Homo sapiens: one gene and its partner. The protein of the gene in region 1 purifies or fractionates together with the protein of each later gene. This does not show direct contact. Each region holds a gene or a part of one and is shown on either strand. Other genes may lie near its edges.

Region 1 (7,622 bases):
CTTATTTGGAAATATTATTACTTTTCTAAGTCCTTTCACAAGCAACGTCCTCTTTTCCTTTGTTGTCTATTGCCTATACCTATTTAGAAAAGTTTTAAATTATTAGCCAGTCAGGTTTTAGCTTAGATTGTGATGTCTGGCTCCAGCCAATGGAGACAGGACACAGTAGCAGGGACAAGCTGCATAAGGGATACGAATTACTTCCCTCCATTGTTCAGGTGTGCTGTCACCATTGTGCCATCTGTGAGGAGCACTCTTTCTGCAGAAAGTAAAATTGCCTTGCTGAGAAAACTTTTTGTCTGAATGCTCATTTTTCCTTGTGGTACTGAGGAACAAGTATTCTGTTTCTGAATAAATATTTTACATATAACAATATCTTTGTTTTTCAAACTTCTCTCTTTTTCCGTTTTCTTTTCTCTTTTCCTATTTTTCTTTTCTTTTCACTCTTGACCTCTTATGATGACCTTTTCCTCCATTGAAGTGCTAATTGATTTTTCATTTTCTCCTTATTTCAAAATTTATTCACATCACAGAATATGGTATAAGTCATTCACACTGCAGTTAGAATTATTCAGTATTTCCATGAGTCATTTCTCAGAAGGGAATGTATATCAAAAGGAGAATATTTTATGGCTTAAATTATTAAATTATTACAGTGAGTATTGTGGAATCAAAATTCCTCACTCAGCAGACAGGTTCTTTGAGAGGGATATAATGGTCACCACTCACGTAAACTATGGTTTTTAGCTCTATGGAAGGCGTCCGCTGACAGAGCAGCCAGAGAGTCAAGCAGCATGAAGGCAAAAGCAGGTGGTAGTGGAGGGTCACCCTAAAGTCTCTTGTCAGGAGGTTATATATGATATTAAGGTTCTCTCCTGGAGTCTGAAGAATCTTGTATATCAAAAGCCCATACTGAATAGGGCATGTCAAGGAGGACAATTTTTTTTTTGGTCTAATGGTAATGGTAAGAGTAGGAGAGAGAGAAGAGGCTACAAACATTGTAATACAGATCATCCCCAATTAGTATTCACAAAGTTTATTCTAATTCAGTTGTATATTCCCTCAATCACCCTAAATCACAGAAGCAGTCTTTCTCAGAAATGGAAGGCATTTCAGCCCAGCTTCCTATCCCAATAGGAGTCCCTTTTACAAGCATCCAGGTGGCTTATCATTTAGCCTTTGCTTGGATGCTTTCTTCAATGGGAAACCCACACCTTTCTGAGGCAGCTCATTGGGATTTTTTTCCAAGGTCAGTGGGGAAAAAAACCCAGGTATTTGGGGCATATAGTGTACCTGGTGATTGTTACTGATTTACTATTTTGCCCACATCTTGTCTTTTGTTCGTGATAGTTCTGTGGGAAATGCCTATTCCTGGTATACCAGGAACTCTCTTGTTCTTCCTTTGACCCTCATCCCTAAGTTACAACAATAACTTAATCTCCCACTATAATTTGTTTCCCCAGAAACAGAAAATAAGGTTTTTGGGATGAGGGTGAAATGAGACAGAGTCATTACTAGTAAATTTGACTCCTGGAGCATGACTTTGCCATTAAATCAACTTTTGGGTCAAGGTGTGGCTCACAGTCGAGTGTTAGAAACAGTGTGTTTCGTCTAGCAGTTTTCTGTTGTAACACTCTGGATTGCTTACTCAGTGCTCTATTTTGAAACCATTATGTGATTTTAAAAAATTTCTTCAGGCTGGGCGTGGTGGCTCATGCATGTTATCCCACTTTGGGAGGCTGAGGCCGGCAGATCACTTGAGGTCAGGAGTTTGAGACCAGCCTGACCAACATGGAGAAACCCCGTCCCTATTAAAAATACAAAAATTAGCCAGGCGTGGTAGTGCATGCTTGTAATTCCAGCTACTAGGGAGGCTGAGGCAGGAGAATTGCTTGAACCCAGGGGGTGAAATTTGCAGTGAGCCGAGATCACGCCCCTGCACTCCAGGCTGGGTGGCAGAGTGAGACTCCATCTCAAAAAAAAAAAAAATTTCTTCAATTCAAGTGTCTGGATGCAAAATCCTATGACCATTAACTAGTGACACTCTGGGTTAAGGAATAGGTGCAAGCTCCCATGTCCCCAAAGCTTAAGCCTCCTCAGTCCAGACTGAGGGCTGGGGAGGGGGCTCCTTTCCCTGGTGATTCAAATTGAAGAAAAGACAGGTTCTCCCATAAGGTCAAGGTTTGGAATTTACATTCTGCCATCACTCTCCAAACGCAGGGGTGACTTTATAATGAAATCAGGCAAAAACTCCTACTAGGGCAATAACGGTCAGGTGTGAGCCTGGTCTGAGAGCCTAGCAGGGGGTAAGCAGAGAGTTTGAGGGTAACAGTCAACAGTCTTACAGATGGATGACTTACCTATGTTATCATAGGGAATTACGATGCTCCCAGAGTCGACCCACATTTTGGTATAGATAAGGAGGCACAGCGGCATCATTCCGAGGGCAAGCAGTGTGGAGCATGTGGTCATGCTGACGCTGAAAGGCAATGGGCAGATTGATACATCCACCTGTGGTGTTCTAGGGAAGATGCTGTTTTATTTTTATTTTTTAATTTAACTTTTATTTTAAGTTTAGGGGTATATGTGCATGTTTGTTATATAGGTCAACTTGTGTCATGGGGGTTTGTTGTACAGATTATTTCATTGCCTAGGTATTAAGCCTAGTACCCATTAGTTATGTTTCCTGATCCTCTCTTTCCTCCCACCCTCCACCCTCTAATAGGCCCCAGTGTCTGTGTTCCCCTCTATGTGTCCATGCGTTCTCATCATTTAGCTCCCACTTATAAGTGAGAACATGCAGTATTTGGTTTTCTGTCCTTGTGTTACTTTGCTAAGGATAATGGCCTCCAGCTCCATCCATGTTCCTGCAAAAGACTTGATCTAGTCCATTTTTATGGCTGCATAGTATTCCATGGTGTGTATGTACCACATTTTCTTTATCCAGTCTATCATTGATGGGCAATTAGGTTGATTCCATATGTATGCCATTGTAAATAGTGCTGCGGTGGACATATGTGTGCATGTGTCTTTATAATAGAACGATTTGTATTCTTTTGGGTATATACCCAGTAATGGGATTGATGGGTTGAGTGTATTTCTGTTTTTAGGTCTTTGAGGAATTGCCACACTGCTTTCCGCAATGGATGAACTAATTTACACTCCCACCAACAGAAGATAAGTATTCCTTTTTCTCTGTAACCTCGCCAGCATCTGTTAATTTTTGCCTTTTTAATAATAGCCATTCTGACTGATGTGATATGGCATTTCATTGTGGTTTTGATTTGCATTTCTCTAATGATCAGTGATGTTGAACTTTTTTTCATATGATTGTTGGCTGCATGTGTGACTTCTTTTGAGAAGCATCCGTTCATGTCATTTGCCCACTTTTTAATGGGTTTGTTCATTGTTTTCTTGGAATCTAATTAAACTAAAGAGCTTCTGCACAGCAAAGGAAACTATAAGCAGAGTAGACAAACAACCTCCCGAATGGGAGAAAATTTTTATTTTCGATTCATGATAAGAAAGTCCTGCAAGAATCTGTCTCAACCTGTAGCATCGTCTGGTGTGATGAACAGTAATATACATGTGCCTATGTGCCTGAGTGTATTCAGGGCCTGGCCTTGAGCAAAATGGGCCATATTTGGTGTCTTTCCACTTTGCCTTGTGCCGTCCTTCCCTCCCCTTTTATTCTTAAGGGTCAGAAACAGTATTAAACGATGGGTTAAAGTCATCATTAAATAATGTATAAGGTTCGCTGGGTGTGCCATCCTTCAAACATTCAATCAAAGAACAGCAAACACATTTAAAGCAGCTGACACCACCAAGGCTGCATGTGTCTGACCATGCTGAGATGGAATGGGCCTCCCTGGGCCCCTGGAATAGAATGCATGTCCGAGGGAGGAGGCCTCGCTGTGTTGCCATAAAGCAGAAAAATTACTGCCCAAGTGACCCTAGCTTGGGACAAGAAGCGGAAGCTGACTTAAAAATCAAAAGAAAGCATGCAAGCGGCAGGGTAGACATAAATTCTTAGCACTGAGTAAGTTATTGGCAATTTGGCAAATGTGTGTTCAGAAGAACTAGTGTCTGGTATCATCCCTGCTCAGAGTGTTTGCATTTTAATAAGAGGGTCTGGCTGAGTAGGCTATCTACATGGAGACATTAATGCCAAATGATGCTATCTCTAGTACTAGGACAGTGGGTCAAAGAAAGATTTTTGGGGAGTGAGTCTTCCGGGTCCTCTTCAAAGGGATCTGTACACAGCGTACATTCTCTGCCTTTAAAGCCTGAGCTCTAAAGCCACACACTGTCTGGGCTGAAAGCAGGCGGTGCCACTTAGTGTGTTAATTTGAGTAATTTAGTTGACTTCTCTTTACCAGTTTCCTTATCTAAAATGGCTGTAAGGATAGAATGAGCCAATGGTGTCCGGCACTTAGACCAATGCAAAGCACTCTATTAAGAGCTGGTTGCTACTACCATTTTTTTTTTTTTTTTTTTTTTAAATAGGGTCTCTCTCTGTCACCCAGGCCAGAGTACAGGGTCACCAACTTGGCTCACTGAAGCCTGGGCTCAAGTGATCTTTGCACCTCAGCCTCCCGAGTAGCTGGGAATACAGGCATGAGCCACCATGCCAGGCTAATTTTTAAATTTTTTGTAGAGATGGGGTTTCACCATGTTGTCCAGGCTGGTCTCAAACTCCTGGGCTCAGGTGATCCGCTCGCCTAGGCCTTCCAAAGTGCTGGGATTACAGGCGGGAGCCACCGCACCCTGCATCTCTCTGCTGTGATCATTTATGTTACCATGTTTTTGTATCTTGTGTTCCACCAAATAGAATCGGGAAACTTAGAGAAATGAGAAATTTCTCTGAAAGGCCCTTCTCTCAACAGGTCGTCATTGAGGTTGTCAAGAGTAGTAATTTCTTAAGGGTATTATGGGTGTACTTGAAAGAAAATGTTAAATATTTATATTACCTGCCCCCCAAAACAACAACAACAACAACACACTATACTAAGAAAGGAGCTAACAATGAGAAATTTTGTTTCAAGGCACAGTTAAATTTGCACAGTTTGGCAAAATACAGGGTGGGACAAAGTTCATCAGAGAGCTTAACTTCTCTAATAATATATTTATTTTTAACCAGAATGACCTCATTTAAAATAGGCTTAAATAATTTAGATAAAAATACTTGTTTTAGTAGAGCTAAAATATTACAACAGTAACAAATAATGTGGATGTATTTAAAACTTTAAGCAGTTCAATCTATTCTGGTTATAGGTAAATTTAGGCATGAAATAGATGCTAAGGCAGAATTGTACACCAGACAAACAAGTTAATTTGTTATTAATAGTACTTTGTCCTACTTATAATGAAAGTACTGGAGTTTGAAGGTAATTTTTTTCTCTGTTCCTTCCTCTCTTCTTTCAGTGTTCTCTTTTTTTTTATTTTATTTTAAAAAATATATTAGAATGGATTTAAAGTTGTCCCTATAATAAAATCACTTTTTTTTCTGTGCATCCAATATTTTTTTCTAGAGTGTGGTGGGAATCTGGTGGGGAAGTGAGGAGGATTTATTAACTGGGTTCCAGTGAAGAGAAGTCTGAGAATTTTTGTTTTAAAATGTGAGAAAATGTTTAAGAAGGAAGTCTTTTTCTGTCTTTGTTTTTTTTTCAAAGATCCTTGCAAAACCTTTAATTCTGAATATTGCTAAGACAATCTATGACGTTGTATCATAATTTTGAGTTTGGTGAGAGCAGTTTCTTAAGGATCGTGATGAGGGACAAAAGAGGGTTTGGAGAAGGAAAGGTTTAGACTTGTGAGCAGCACTGACGAAGAGACCTTGCAGATGAACAGACGAATAGGTAGCTGGAAGTTGATGCTATTTGAATGAATATAAGAACAAAATCAAACCACTCAAAATGAGATTTAAAACAATTCACAGATAACGAATTTTAAGAAATAATATAGAAGCCTAAATTAGCAAAAGAAAATATTATCTTACACGAAAAAATCTGAAGTTCTATAAAAGGCATGTATATAAAAAATACATACACTGCCTTGAATTTATATTAGACTGACAGAAAAGAGTCAAGTATAAGAAAAATAAAAAAAAAATCTTGGTCTTAATTTTGACTTCAGCTCTATTAACTGCCAGGGAGATTTTCTTTTGTGTGTATGGAAATAAAAGAAAGAATAAATGTAAATTTAGTGAATGTTGAGGAATTCAGTGAAATCAGTGTTAAGCAATGTAAAAGATTGTAATCATATTAGAAGTAAAATACCAAGTTTGAAGGCTCTAACGTAGCGTATATAGGCAGTGCTAGAAACTGGAGAAGTGAAAAGTGATAGAAGCAGTGTAGAGAAAGCTTATGAGCCTGCAAAGTGGTAGTGGGTAGACCTGGGTGATTCCAATTCTGACTCAGGCATACATTGACTCAATGACCTTGGTCAAGGTTATGAATCTTAACTTCATTATCTGCCAAATGCAGAAAATAATAGTACTAACTTTAGAGGATTCTTGGGAGGATGAAATATACCAACTTATTTTGAGTACTTAGCACTGTGCATGGCATATACTAGTGTTTAATAAATATTAGCTAGTAAAATCAGTGCTACTGGAGAGAAACAATGTTTGGTTACTTTTAGGGAGAATAAAGGAAAAAGCCGAATGGTTTTGGGTTAGGTCTCCCAGAGTAGAGAAGAGAAGGACATTTATGGGGTTGACATAGGAAGGATTGATTGCTGTGAATTTGTGGTAAGCTACAGGGTGAGATTTCTTGAATATCTAAAATATCAATGAATGCTGCACTGGAAGCTGAAAAATCTAACAGCATTTGCCCAAAGAACAAAGGATGTGGTAGGAAAGTCTGTAAAATAATAAAAAGGAATGTAGAAAGTAGGTGGCAGGGAAGGAACTGGGGGCAACTGGGAGAAGGATGCATAAGAATGGATTCCCCAAAGAGGAAGCCAAAGAAAGGAAATGAGAAGTCCTTGCATGGTGTCGCTGAGGCCATTAAGAAGGATGAAGACACCGGATATTTGCCTGTGTCTGGGGAGAGAGCAGACAAAAAGGAGATAGGATGTTTCTGTGTCCTCTCAACTATGGGTTTTGGCCACAAGCAGATTCACCTGAAAAGTCACCATCTCTTCTCCCTGATGCTTTTTGTGCATGTGATGTCCATGGCACAGCTGCAACTTAGGTGAAAATATATGTGCACCAATCAGATTCACAAACTCCAGGCTGGGAGTGGTCAGAGAAGGAGCTGAAATAGTACTTGCTGGATTCCAATGATCAAGGACTATTGTCTATTTTTTTTTTGTTTTTCAAAGTCACTAGAGATTGCAAAATGCGGTGGCTTTCCAGGTTCATAAGAGATGACAGAGTGAGAGAGAAATGTTTTGGTTTCTTCTCCCAAGAACCATAACCAAGAGAGTTAAAACCAGGTGGAATGGTTTTGCTGGCATTGTGTGGCATTAGCTCAATTAGTGTAGCTGCCTGTTAACATAAACAGTCATGTCTTCATGCCATTGCTGGAGTTCAAGTGGAGATGGAGAAGGTAAAATTCTAAGTGTACACAACTGGAAATATAAATGTTAGATAGGATTGTATCTAAGTAAATTATCAG
Region 2 (8,078 bases), on another chromosome or scaffold:
TTCCAAAGTGTTGGGATTACGGGTGTGAACCACCGCACCAGGCCTGGGCTGACACTTTAAACGTGCCATTGCAATCAGTGTATAATGGTCCCGTGGCAGAGGGAGAATGGTGCCCAAGTCAGTACTTCTTGGCTGGGACCCAAGAAGACAAACCTCTAGGGCCGGCGTGGTGGCTCACGCCTGTAATCCCAGCACTTTGGTTGGCTGAGGTGGGCAGATCATCTGAGGTCAGGAGTTCAAGACCAGCCTGGCCAACATGGTGAAACCTTGTCTCTAATAAAAACACAAAAATTAGCTAGGGGTGGCCCGCGCCTGTAATCCCAGTTACCTGGAGGCTGAGGCAGGAGAATTGCTTGTACCCTGGAGGCGGAGATAGTGCCACTGCACTCCAGCCTGGGCAGCAGAGTGAGACTCCGTCTCTAAAAAAAAAAAAGAAAAACTTATTAAAAAAAAATTGCAAGCAAAAAGCACAGAAGGCAGAAGGTGCAAATAAGCAGAGGCTCCATGGTCTGAAGGAGGCCAGTGCTGGGACCATGAATGAAGGGGGCTGGGGGCCAAGATTCCTGTATCCTGAGGGAGTCCAGGGTGGTACTGCTCCCCAAGTCCCATGGGTGGGGCTATTGGTCTCTGGGGATCCACTGCTTGTATTTCTCCTAATCTGCTTGGCATTAACCTCCTGCCAGGCTTTCAACACCCTTGGGGCAGTTTTCCCAGGTCCTGAGGCTGGGCAGCTGAGTCCAGTAAAAAACAGGGGCCCTGGAGAGGGACTGTGGGCAATGCCCCCGAGTCCCCGGGGCCTGGGAAGAACAGAGGCTGCCAAGTGCAGGGGGTGGTGGGGAGGGGAAGACCCTGGAGTAACAATCCCTGCTGTGTCCACTTGGTTCCCACGGACTCAAGCCAAGCCAAAGCACTGCCCGGACCAGTTCGGCTTCCAACCAATCCTGGTGCTGGCCTCAGACTCCTCCTTTCTTTCTCAGAACCCCATTCCCCTCAGGGCCCCCAGAGTCCAGGCCCCTAGATTCTTCTTCCCCTAGAACTCAGGAGTCTGGGACCCCCCAGTCCCTTCTCCTCAGGACCTAGAAGGTTGGATCCCCAGCCCCCTTTCTCCCTTAGAACCTGAAATCACAGCCCTTGATCAGTATTTTGCGCCCCCTAGTGGAGAGAAGAGTGGGTCTGTCCTGTGACTTACATACAGCAGGAATGGCAGAATTTTTTACTTATTATGATTTTTAATTTCTTTAGAGACAGGGTCTCACTCTGTCACCCAGGCTGGAGTGCAGTAATGTGATCACAGCTAATTGCAACCTCGAACGAACTCCTGGGCTCCGGCATCCCTCCCACCTCAGCCTCAGAGTAGCTGGACCACAGGTGGATGCCACCACACCACCTAATTTTGTTAATTTTTAGTAGAGCTAGGATCTCGCTATGTCACCAAGGCTGGTCTTAAACTCCTAGGCTCAAGCGATCCTTCTGCCTCAGCCTCCCAGAGTGCTAGGATTACAGGCATGAGCCACGAAGCCTGGACGGAATGGCAGAATTTATTTGGTCACTCCACAGAGCATAGGAAGGCTCTGCAGGGAACCTGCCTCCACAGGAGCCCTGTCCAAGGTCACACTTCTCATGAGAAGCTTAGACCTCATCATGCTCCAACACATTGGCCCTTGCAGTGTATGAGACTTGGAGAGCAGATTGCAGCAGTTTGTATTTATAGCTGAGAGCGCAGTTGGGGTTGCAGTGAGGCTGGAGAAAGTTTCAAAGCCCCTCACTTGCCTGGGCTTTCCATGGTCCTCTACCTAAATTTGTACAAGTCATTTTGTACTTTTTTTTTTTCAAGACAGAGTCTCCCTTTTCTTGCCCAGGCTGGAGTGCGATGGCATGATCTCGGCTCACCACAACCTCCGCTTCCCAGGTTCAAGCGATTCTCCTGCCTTGGCCTCCCAAGTAGCTGGGATTACAGGCATGTACCACCATGCCCAGCTAATTTTGTACTTTTAGTAGAGATGGGGTTTCTCCATTTTGGTCAGGCTGGTCTCGAACTCCCGACCTCAGGTGATCCACCAGCCTCTGCCTCCCAAAGTGCTGGGATTACAGTGTGAGCCACCACACCCAGCCAATTTTGTACTTTTTAAAAGAGGCCAGGCCAGGCGCGGTGGCTCATGCCTGTACTCCCAGCACTTTGGGAGACAGAGGCAGGCGGATCACGAGGTCAGGAGATCAAGACCATCCTGGCTAACACGGTGAAACCCCGTCTCTACTAAAAATACAAAAAATTAGCTGGGCGTGGTGGTGGGCGCCTGTAGTCCCAGCTACTCCGGAGGCTGAGACAGGAGAATGGTGTGAACCCAGGAGGCGGAGCTTGCATTGAGCTGAGATCATGCCACTGCACTCCAGCCTGGGTGACAGAGCAAGACTCCATCTCAAAAAAAAAAAAAAAAAGAGGCCCACAAAACACATAAGCTTCAGACCCCACAAAGTCTCTCCTCAATCCCTGTCTTAGTCTATTCACTTCATCCCTGGACTTAAAAGACTGGGCCTACACATTCAAAGAATCGTTATTAACACCATTATTGTCTGTAACAGTGAGGATGAGGCACTGAGTTTTCTTTTTCTTTTCTTTCTTCTTTTTTGGAGGTGGAGTCTTGCTCTGTTGCCCAGGCCGGAATTCAGTGGCATGATCTTGGCTCACTGCAACCTCTGCCTCCCGGGTTCAAGCAATTCTCCTGCCTCAGCCTCCCGAGTAGCTGGAGTTACAGACGTCCGCCACCATGCCCGGCTAATTTTTGTATTTTTAGTAGAGACGGGGTTTCACAATGTTGGCCAGGCTGGTCTTGAACTCCCGACCTCAGGTGATCCGCCTGCCTCGGCCTCCCAAAGTGCTGGGATTACAGGCGTGAGCCACCGCGCCTGGCTGAGGAGCGAAGTTTTCTAAGGTTCCTTCTTGTCCTGTGTTAGCCCTCAGAGAGGTAAGTCACTCACCTTCTGCACCTAGAGAGCCTCATCCCCAGGGCAATCATCCCCAGGGCAGTGCTGGAGATACAGCAGTGACCACAACAGTCCCAGGTCAGCCTGCCCAGTTGGGGAGACACACCCATCCCTGACAGTGATGACACAAAGTGAGCAGGGATGGGGTGGAGGAGCTGAGGGGGCAAGGGAGGATAGGAAAAGGGCTCAGAGAGAGTTTCCTAGAGCGAGAGCTACTGTTACAGGGCTGAGACCTAGAGGAAAGTGGAGGAAACCGATAATAAAATGATAATTATATATTCAGAATATCCCAATGCAAAGCTTACTCTTTTTCCAGGTAATATATAAGGTTCATAATCACAGCGCTCCAAATATTGACCACTTAAGCATGAGGCCCAGGGCCTGATGTTTTCCATTCGCCATCTAACTACGTCTTCCCAATAACACAGCGGGGCAAAACGGGAAGACGAAGAACGAGTACGATTATATCCCTGGTTTATAAAAGGGGAGAAACTGAGGCTCAAACATAGATGTCACTTGTCACCAGCCTGGCCAACACGGTGAAACTCCGTCTCTACTTACAAAAAAAAAAAAAAAATGGGAGGCTGACGCAGGAGAATTGCTTGAATCCGGGAGGCAGAGGTTGCAGTGAGCCGAGATCGCGCCACTGCACTCCAGCCTGGGTGACAGAGCGAGACTCCGTCTCAAAAAAAAAAAAAAAATTAGCCAGGAGTGGTGGCGTGCTCCTGTAATCCCAGCTACTCGGGAGGCCGAGGATGCAGTGAGCCGAGGTTGCAGTGAGCCGAGATCGCGCCATTGCACTCCAGCCTGGGGGAGAGTGAGGCTCCGTCTAAAAAAGAAAAAAAAAGAGAGAGAGAGACGTCACTTGTCCAGGATATCTTATCCAGTCAGTAGCACCACAAGGGTTAGAACCCTGGCCAGACATCCACCCAATTTCACGGGTGAACAGTTAACAGCCTCTGAGAGTCTTGTCCTCTCTGGGCCTCCGTAACACCCTCTCCAAACTAAGGGTCTCTCAGCAGATGGCCGGGTTTAGAGCTGTACGAAGACACACAGCTAATGAAAAATTGTGGAATTCTCAGAGCCCGTGAAGCCTAGCCCACGGATGCGAGGTTTGGACCACTGAGGGAACGCGCATGCGTGCTAGGCAGGGCAGTCCGAAGGCTTGGGGGTGTATCATAGGGTCTCATCGGAGGTTTGTTGGCCGTAAGACCCCTGGAATTGGAACTCTAAAAACACAGAAAGGATATGAGCTCAGGAGACTTGAACGAAAGAGTTGTCTTAGGAAGAGGGGTCAGAAGACAAGGGTGCTGGGCAAAAGGCTAGTTCTTCGAATCAGAATACGGTGGCCAGAAAGGTTCCTCTGACGAAAGAGGGGCGTGGTTCGAAGCCGTACAGTGGCCGGTAAAGCTCAAGAAACATGGAACGAAAAGGACGCGAAGAATCGGCAGGGAGAAGCGGACAGGATGTCCCGAAAGGCTCATATAACCGAAAAGGCGGGTTAATGTGAAGGGACGGAAGGGACAGAACTTGCGGGAGGCACATGCTGGCCGAGAAAGTCCTGGAGTTCGGAGCATACAGTGTTTTTATTAGGTGGAAACAAACGGGCTGGGAGAAAGACGAGTACGGTGGCCAGGTTGGTCCTTCCATAGCCGGAAGTGGCCTTCCTGAGAGGCGTGGCTGCGGCACTCTTGCCGGATAGGGTGGCCCGGCGGGGCTAGGAAAGCGTGAAATCTCGCGCGATTGCGCTGCGAAGTCGGGGACGGGGCGGGGCTGGCGGCGGGGGCGGGGACCCGGAGCGGGAAGATGGCGGCGGCGCAGGAGGCGGACGGGGCCCGCAGCGCCGTGGTGGCGGCCGGGGGAGGCAGCTCCGGTCAGGTACGGAGGCCGAGAGGGGACTGAGGGGGTTCTTCCCCAGCCGGGGGGCCTCCCACGGGGCGTGTCCTACCTCTTGTCACGGAATCCCGTGCACTGGGGGCTCCTTGGCCAGAGGGACCTTGAATACCCGGCCCAGGCAGGGCCGGACCGCCCGGGAGGCCGGACGGTGCCGGGAACAGGGCCCTGTTGCGGGTCGGTTCCCCTGCACGCTCGAGCCGGGCGGCCACCAGGCTCATTGCTCGATCCGGGGAGACAGTGGCTCGGAGGGGCGCAGGCTTGTACCTTGGCGCGCTGGGTTCTCAACTCCGCGATTCCATGCTCTGAGGCCGTTCCTAGAGTGGTCTGGCGTTCAGGTCTCGTTGTAGTGTTTGAGGTGTGCGCAGTGATTAATTGGGAGTTTTCTAGCTGTGGGGAAGTCAGTATTAGCAGGGCACGGCCGACAGACCCATTTTACAGACGGGAATTCAAGGAACAGTGAGACTAAGGCGCTTCTAGAAGGTCATCCTGGTTAGGTTTGTAACTTTATGTAGAAGTTACAAGACACTGCTGACACAGGGACTGGTATGGTTGTGGTTTTAATGTAAAATAGTTCTATGGGTTAATTAGTCCTGGTGCGGATGACTTCTGCCCCACTGCTGTCTTAACACACTGCAGAGCATACCATTTCAGGCAGCTACCGTTCAGGCATTTGGGGAATAGATGGAGAGACATGAAGGTGCTGTCGACCCACCCACTGGGATGTCACTGACATGTGGGAGGCAGCTCAGGGGAAAGGAGTGCGGGTTGAGAGGGGAGAATGAAGCTGACTCTCTGTGTGACCTTGGGCAAGTTCCTTTCCCTCTTTAGGCCTTTATCTCTCCCGTGTTAAATGCAGAGGTTGGACAGGAGGGCCAGCCATATCCCTGCTGTCAGGGGACGAAGAGAGGAGACTGACATGTAAACAGTTGTAATCCTGAATGATTAGGTTGGTGACAAAAGTCTGTGTCAGGGACTGGGGGAGCCCAGAGAAAGAGCAAGTGGTATCACTTGGGTAGGACACATGGATGAAATTTGTGTGATAGAGCCCACTGTATCTGCTCTGAATCTTTTCAGCATTCTCAGCCAGGGCCTGGCTTCAGGGACAGCTTAGGAAATGTTTGTTGAGTTAGTGCTGGAATGAAGGCTCAGTTCCTGTCTTCAAGGGTTTCCCAGTCTTGCTGAAAGGAGGTCGTTTCCCCTCTGGGTTTCTGTTGATTATTGGGTTGATGGTGGCTTGAGAGACCAGGGCCCAGGTTGTTCTCATTGCCCTGAGCTTCCAGATGGCACTCTGATCTTCTCTTGTACCAACTCTGCTTAAAAACAATCAAGAGTTACCCCTTTGCCTTTAGGACAAAGTACAAATTCTTTAATAAATCACAGTCTTGCACGATCCGACACTTTTCTTCAGACTAGACTAGGATTTCTCGAGCTCGGCACTATCAACATTTTGAATTGGATAATGCTTTGTTTGGGGGGCTGCCCTGTGCATTTTAGGATGTTTAGCAGCATCCGTGGCCTCTACGCACTAGATGTCAGTAGGATCCACGCCCCTCCCCAGTTGTGACAACCATATATGTCTCCAGACATTGCCAAATGTTCCAAGAGCAGGGGGGCAAAGCCATCCCTGCGTGAGAACAACTGCGCTAAAGGGGATCCGCTGCTCTGAACCTATTTTATTTCTAAACCTCTTTTATTGCCTCTCAGTCTCTTTCCTCATAGTCTATGCACAGGTCTCTCCCCTCTTTAGCTAGTTGATGTGTATTAGTCCTACAGATTTCAGATGTCCCTTCCTGCAGAAAGCCCTCTTTGACTGTCTGGGCTCCGCTGTCCCAGCCCTGCCCTACTGGGTTTCACTGTCTGGGGACTGGGAACCCCAGGAGGGCAGAGCCAGGACTGCCTTGATCACCACTGCTTCCTTAGCACCACTCAGCTCAGCGCCAGGCACAGAGGAGGTGCTCAGTGTTTGTGGAATGAGCGGATCTTGAAACAGAGGCTGGGCTGAGGTGGAATTCCCTGATGCCGTGGTGGATCCAGGTAATCAGTGAAGACATGCCGCAAAACCTAGCTTCCTCCTGCTCTTGCCTAGCCCTGGTGGTCTCAGCTACTTCTTGGACCCTTTAGCAGATGTTGCTGGGGATTGTGTGTGTGCGTGGACGTGCAGATCCGAGAGCAGGAACTGTGTCTTAGTCACTGATGTGTCCACAGCCACTGCCACCCTTCTCCCATGCCCAGGGCCTAGTGCACAGCAGGCACACCCTCTGCACAGTCTGCTGCTTTAGCTAGCCTGCTCCTGTAGCCAGGAACTCGGACACAGAACCCACAGCTTTGCCATTCCTTCCTTCAGCGAATGCGAATTGAGTCTACTCCATGCTAGGCCTTTGCTGATGCTGGAGATACAGCTGTGAATAAAATAGGTGCTGCCCTCTTGAAGGCCCTTACACTTATGTTCTAGTTGGAGCTGAATTTATAGGGGAAGCACAGACAGGGACACACAGTGAACAAGATAAATAAGAAAAACAGCAGTTCAGATGGCTCTGCGTGCCATGGACAGAAATAAAGCTGGGATGGGGATAGGAAGTGAGGGGTGGGTAGAAGAGTTGCAATTAAATAGGGTAGTCTAGAAGGCCTCTCTGAGGAGGTGACGCTTGAACAAAGACCTGAAGGAAGTGAGAGAGGGAGTCCCAAAGATACACGAGGGAAAAGCTTTTCAGGCAAAGGAGCAGCCAGTGCGAAGGCCCTAAAGTGGGAGGTGCCTGGTGTGATGAAGGAAGGGCGAGGAGGCTGGAGCGGGTGAGGGGAGAGGGGTGGCTGGGGACAGATGCAGATTATGCCAAGCTTTGGAGGCCATGGGGAGGACTTGGCCTTTACTCTGAGGGAAATAGGAGCTGAAAAGAGTGACTCTTTTTTTTTTTTTCTTTTTTCTGAGACGGAGTCTCGCTTTCTCACCACAATCTCGGCTCACTGCAACCTCCGTCTCCTGGGTTCAGGCAATTCTTCTACCTCAGCCTCTCAAGTAGCTGGGATTACAAGCACCTGCCACCACACCCAGCTAATTTTTGTATTTTTAGTAGAGACAGGGTTTCACCAGGTTGGCCAGGCTGGTCTTGAACTCCTGACCTCAGGTGATCTGCCCACCTCGGCCTCCCAAAGTGCTGGGATTTCAGGCGTGAGCCACCACGTCCAGCCTTGTGGTATAATTT

The links.
Region 2: the proteins of SLC10A2 (region 1) and CLPTM1 purify together in Homo sapiens (affinity purification with mass spectrometry; 2 studies listed by BioGRID and IntAct, with this or other methods). This does not show direct contact.

Annotation. Positions count from the first base shown.
Region 1 is NC_000013.11:103,055,904-103,063,525, forward strand, and holds part of SLC10A2 (ileal sodium/bile acid cotransporter), read right to left. Parts: intron 2,480-7,622; coding exon 2,361-2,479; intron 1-2,360. UniProt on the Homo sapiens protein: Plays a critical role in the sodium-dependent reabsorption of bile acids from the lumen of the small intestine. Transports various bile acids, unconjugated or conjugated, such as cholate and taurocholate.
Region 2 is NC_000019.10:44,950,608-44,958,685, forward strand, and holds the start of CLPTM1 (putative lipid scramblase CLPTM1), read left to right. Parts: upstream 1-4,772; 5' UTR 4,773-4,788; coding exon 4,789-4,860; intron 4,861-8,078. UniProt on the Homo sapiens protein: Involved in GABAergic but not glutamatergic transmission. Binds and traps GABAA receptors in the endoplasmic reticulum (ER).